Linked DNA regions of Homo sapiens: region 1 is linked to region 2. The links come from fine-mapping of genetic effects on gene expression. A gene starts in region 2. The other region holds a variant in brackets. All regions are shown on one strand. Distances are between the middles of the regions.

Region 1 (2,916 bases), 870 kb before region 2:
AGCCTGGGCAATATAAAGAGACCCCTCTAAAAATTTTTTTAAAAACATTAGCTGAGCATGATGGTGCATGCCTGTAGCCCCAGCTACTTGAGAGGCTAAGGAAGGAGGATAGCTTGAGCCCAGAAGTTCAAGGCTACAGTGAGCTGTGATCATGCCATTTGCACTCCAACCTGGGCAACAGAGAGAGAGAGAGAGAGACCCTGTCTCAAAACAAAACAAAATGAAAAAACCCCACAAAACTCTATACCCAACAAACCACTCTGCATTCTCTCCTCCCTCTAGCCCTTGGGAACCCTCGTTCTACTTTCTTTCTCCCTGAGTTTGACTATTTTGGAACCTCATATAAGTGGAATCCCATAGTATTTGTCTTTTTGTGCATGACTTATTTCACTCAGCATAATGTCTTCAAGGTTTGAAGGTTTGTCTATGTTGCAGCATGTGTCAGAAATTCCCTTTTTTTTTTTTGAGGCAGAGACATGGTCTCGCTCTGTCGCCCAGGCTTGAGTGCAGTGGCACAATATGGACTCAACTGCAACCTCCGCCTCCCTGGTTCAAGCAATTCTCCTGTCTCAGCCTCCTGTGTAGCTGGGACTACAGGTGCACTCCAGCACACCTGGCTAATTTTTGTATTTTTAGTACAGACAGGGTTTCACCATATTGGTCAGGCTGGTCTCGAACTACTGACCTCAGGTGATCTGCCTGCCTTGGCCTCCTAAAGTGCTAAAGTGCTGGAATTACAGGCATGAGCCACCGCACCCAGACATAAATTCCTTCCTTTTTTTTTTTTTTTTGAGATGGAGTCTCACTCTGTTGCCCAGGCTGGAATGCAGTGGTGTGATCTTGGCTTATTGCAACCTCTACCTTCTGGGTTCAAGCAATTCTCCTGCCTCAGCCTCCCGAGTAGCTGGGATTACAGGCGTGTGCCACCATGCCCAGCTAATTTTTTGTATTTTTAGTAGAGACAGGGTTTCACCATGTTAGCCAGGATGTTCTTGATCTCCTGACCTTGGGATCCACCTGCCTTGGTCTCCCAAAGTGTTGGGATTACAGGCGTGAGCCACCATGCCCGGCCAAATTCCTTCCTTTTTAAGGCTGAATAATATTCCACTGTAGGGACATACCACAGTTTGTTTATTTCTTCATTTGCTGATGGACACTTGGGTTGTTTCCCCCTTTGGCTGTTGTGAGTAACGCTGTATGAACATGGGTGAAGAGATACCTCTTTGAGACTCTAGTTGCAACTCTTTTGGGTTTATACCTAGAAGTAGAATTGCTGAATCATATGGTAATTCTATTTTAGTTTTTTTGAGAATAATTCCTTTTTAAGGCTGAATAATATTTCATCACATGGATAAATCACGTTTTGTTTATTCATGCATCCATTGATGAAAAACTTGAATTACTTCCACTTTTTGGTTAAGAGTTGTGATGCTGGCCCGGCGCGGTGGCTCATGCCTGTAATCCCAGCACTTTGGGAGGCTGAGGCGGGCGGATCACCTGAGGTCAGGACTTCAAGACCACCTGACCAACATGGAGAAACCCCGTTTCTACTAGAAAT[A/G]CAAAATTAGCCGGGCATGGTGGCACATGCCTGTAATCCCAGCTACTTGGGAGGCTGAGGCAGGAGAATCACTTGAACCCGGGAGGCAGAGGTTGCAGTGAGCAGAGATCATGCCATTGCACTCCAGCCTGGGCAAAAGAGCAAAACTCCATCTAAAAAAAAAGAAAAAAAGAGAGAGTCATGCTGCTATGAACATGCATGTACAAGCTCCTATGTGGATATGTGTTTTCATTTCTCTTGGAGATGCACTTAGCCGTGAAGTTACTTCATTTTTTGGGCCTCAGTGTTTGCCTATAAGACAGGATCAGGCTCTCACATGGTTATTTGTATGAACTGATGAGATGTTTGCCTGGTACAAGGTGGGTGTTAAAGAAATGGAAGCTAATGATAAAATGATTTTGTTTCTCTGTGCCTGAATCTCGTCCTCAGGAGCTTATAATTTAGTAGACACATAAGCCACAAACAGAAGCCAGCTCTGTGTCAGGCCCCATGAGAAGTCCGCAGGTGCGATCTTCAATTTGGAGGTGAGGAAACTGAGGCTTGGAGGGTGATTTGCCAAGGTCTGGATCGGGAAGGGGAGGCAGGACTCAAGGCCCATTGGGCTCCGGGGTCTCACAGTGAGCGAGGAAGCTGAGAAGAGCCTGGCCCATCTTGCAGGCACCGCTGTGCTTCCAGGGTTGCCCAGGCGAGACCCTCACCCCATGTGCTACCTGTCCCTGACAGGCAGGGAAAGGGGCTGGGCCGGCCCTGGGGGTGGCTGTGTGGATGAACACCTAGTGGATGATGAAATGCAGGCTGAGAAGAGTCTGAGATGAATCGGGAAGTTTCGGGAAGCTGCCCCTACGGTGATGTTCAGTGTCAGGGAGCTGCACAGAGGAGCCGGTGGAGGAACATGGAGAGTAGGAGGCGGTGTGAGGCAGACACTCTTTGCCTGGCATGGGCTGGAGGTGTGGGGTGAATGGTTCACGAGAAGAGGGGGCATGCACAGTGCAGTGGGCACAGAGGGCAAGGTGGAAGGAAACAGCCTTGGCTGACCACCATGTCGGGCTGGGCTTAGGGACTGGGGTCCTTTGAATCCCCACCGTCCCCTGCCTCGTCCCCACACTCATTCATCCATTCAGTGAAAACCCCTCTGTCAAATGCGGCTCATGTCACATGCGGCTCATGTTAGATGCTGTTTGGGACACTTGGGAGGCCTCAGTGGGCAATAGATTAAATTCCTCCTCCTAGCTTGAGGGGGTGCATGTGTCCATCCCCACCTTCTCCTCAAATCTCTCAGAGGACAAAGCAGGGGCCACGGCTCTCCCACGGCATCCTCTATACAGCCATGGAGGCTGGAGCAGAGATGGACCAACAAA
Region 2 (2,916 bases):
CTGGGGGAGGGCAGGGAGGCCGCAACCTGCAAGAACAATGGAAAGGCCGGAGGGAAGCTGAGGGGCCAGAGAGGGACAGGAGCATGGAGGGCAGCCAGGAGCCTCTGCAACTATCTCCATCTCATGGTAAAAATCTCTAGTCAGAGTCTTCTCTGTTGTCCAGCTTCGTTTCGTGTCTCACCACTTCCTTCCACCCTTCCCAGAATCCCTTTCTCTCTCTCTCTCTCTCTCTCTCTCTCTCTCTCTCACACACACACACACACACACACACACACACACACACACACAGAAGCGTTGCTTCATGTCTTGGGGCCTGGCTTCTAGGTCCAATGTCCTGGGAAATAAGTCTCTAATTGTTTCCATGTGTCCCGCCCTGAGCTGTTTACAACAGGCATTCATAGCCCTGGACCTCGAGCCCTGGTGAGGCCACAGGGTCAGCACAGGGATGGTTCCCATTTGAAGATGACCAAACTGATGTGAAGGGCAGAGGGAGGGACCCAGGCCTCCCCCAGCCCCGAGTGTCTTCCACAGTGAGCTGGAAACCTGTTCTCAAGTCTAAATATTTTACATTTTATCTGGACTAGACTTTCCCCATTTTATTTATTTTCAAAGCATTTTCCCAGATAGTGTCTCTTGTCTATTCCCACGGCTCCGTGAGTTCAGGAGATCGACCCTGGACGGGGCTCCTGCCCACGCCTCGGACTCTGCAATCCTTGGCAGCGACAACCGGAGAGCATGGTGAGAGTGTGGTGGGGAGAATATGCCATAAAAAACAGAAGACAGAAACCAAACACATTGCCTGGGGAGCAGGAACAAACCCCGATCGTTCCCTCAACAGATGAAACATCTGAAGCCCAGAGAGCTTAGGCAGTTTTCCTGAGCATGTCTGGACACACACACACACACACACACACAGAGCTTCCATTAGCAACAGATGTCACAAAAGGACAGGCGCCACCTGACGATAATCTTTCTACTCACCACTGTCCCCTGTAGGAAGGATTCTCCAGGCTTTTCACAGTCAGGCTAGTTGTTAAAATGTTTACATTCATGGGGTGGGAGAAGACCTGGTCAGGTTTCAAGGTGCGGGCAGAGTGGGCCTACCCATCAAGAGTGGTACACAGCGTGCTGAATGAAGCCCAGCTGGGCTTAGGTTAGGGCAGGGGAAGCCCAGACCCAGCCCTCTGCCTGTTTTGTAAATGGCATCATTGGAGCACAGCCATGCCCATTTGTTTGTGTACAGTACACTGCTGCTTGCAAGCTGCAACAGCAGTGTGGCTCACAAAGCCTACAAGATTTACTATCTGTCCCTTTAAGACAAAGTTTGCTGACCCCTTGTTTAAGGGATTAATCCCAAGAATGTTCTCAGGTTCATTTTTTTTCTTTCCCATGCAACAGAGTCATATGGTCATCCAATTCCTATCTGTCAATCACTATTGTAAGGGAACCATTTATTTAAGGACAGTTGATTGAACCCCTGTTATGTGTTAAGCACCCGAACAACCCAAAACACACATAGAAGGAACACGACGTCCCTCAAGGGGCTCACAAAATCCCAAGTGATGGTAGCCAAACACAGGCACAGGGTACAACAAGGACGATGGTGACTGATCCAGCGTAGGCTGGGGCTGCAGTGGTAAAGGTGGAGAAAGGCTGGAGAAGTTAGGGACTGTTTTCTGCTGAAGGAGACAACTTACTAAGTTTTAAAGAGCCACTAGCTCATGTCAGAGAAGGATCTGAAGCCATATGATTTGGAAAGAACATGAGTGCATTCGGTTTTGGGTATGTGGAGTTTGGGGTGCTGGTGACATACCCGGGTGGAGATGATTCAAATGTTTTGTTATGTGTAGGGGTCCAGAATTCAGGAGAGAGAGAATCTGGGCTGGAGATGTAGAGTTAGGGGTATATAGTTGGTGTGGTAGGGATGCTGCCTTCTTGGTGATAAAAGCCTTAACCAAGAGGTAGAAATAATTTTCTCTTCCTGTGAGCAATTCTAACAGCTTGCCTTTACTGCTCTAAAGATATTATGGCACTTTGCATTTCAATTTGTATGTAGTTGGTATCTCTCTCCATTGAACTGTAAACAACAGAGACTTTGGCCATGATGGAGTAAGCATTTATTATTCCACCCTAAATAACTAAAAATAGACCAACTATATACAACAATTTTCAGACATTGGACCGCAGGTGTCACAGAAGTGTAATCTCTGACAGAGGAGAAGCAAATGAGGTGAGACCCACAAGTGCCCCAGCTGACAACCTGGAGAGAGTTTCCACGCCACCATACAGGTAAGTGGAAACCACACAGTGTTCAGTGGCTTCACTGAATTAAGGAGATAGTGTTTAGGGTGTGGGGAGGCCAAGGCAGCTAACATTTGTAGGGCAGAGCCCTGGAGAGGAGAGAGCTGCACACAGAAAGAGAGGACTCTAGAGATCTGCAGACGACTCACTTAAGGCCTTCGGCTGAATATTGATCAGTGCATGCATATGAGAAAATTACTAAGGCTGTGGAAAAGGAAAGTAGCAGATAGAAGAACCCCAGGAGCTCACAAAGGCTGGAGAATATCTTACATGCCCAACAGCCAGTGGAAAGACCTCCTCACCCAGGAAATACCAAGCAGAGTCCTCAGAAAGGCATTGCTTCAGAAGAGGGACTAAATTAGCCCTAGACTAAAGGTTGTTCTAAACGTGTGAAACAAAGCTTAAAAGTAATACTTGAAGAAAAATCAGATTGTTTCCAAGTAACTTAACTATGAACTAGAAAAAGAGTACGAATATATTTAAAGGAATAATTAGAGGAATTAACAATGTCTGGCATCCAATTAAAAATTAGCAGACATGCAAAGAAGCAGGAACTAGGCTCTACAGCCAGAAGAAAAGCAGTTCATAGAAACAAACCAGTAAATGACAAAGATC

Direction of the effects. Alleles are on the strand shown, and positions count from the first base shown. SD is a standard deviation of normalised expression in the study named.
For the expression in vagina of the gene that starts at base 1,131 in region 2, A is the high allele of the variant in region 1 and G is the other (large effect, 0.94 SD a copy in GTEx).

What was found.
Region 1: its variant is fine-mapped to the expression of LINC01987 in vagina (GTEx, PIP above 0.99).

Annotation. Positions count from the first base shown.
Region 1 is chr17:76,854,183-76,857,098 of GRCh38, forward strand. LINC00868 (long intergenic non-protein coding RNA 868) reads left to right here and starts at 1,984. Exons shown (of 2, transcript NR_135284.1): 1 at 1,984-2,082. The variant A/G (reference allele first, on the strand shown) is at 1,559.
Region 2 is chr17:77,727,429-77,730,344 of GRCh38, forward strand. It overlaps LINC01987 (long intergenic non-protein coding RNA 1987), which reads right to left and starts at 1,131. Exons shown (of 2, transcript NR_104134.1): 1 at 982-1,131.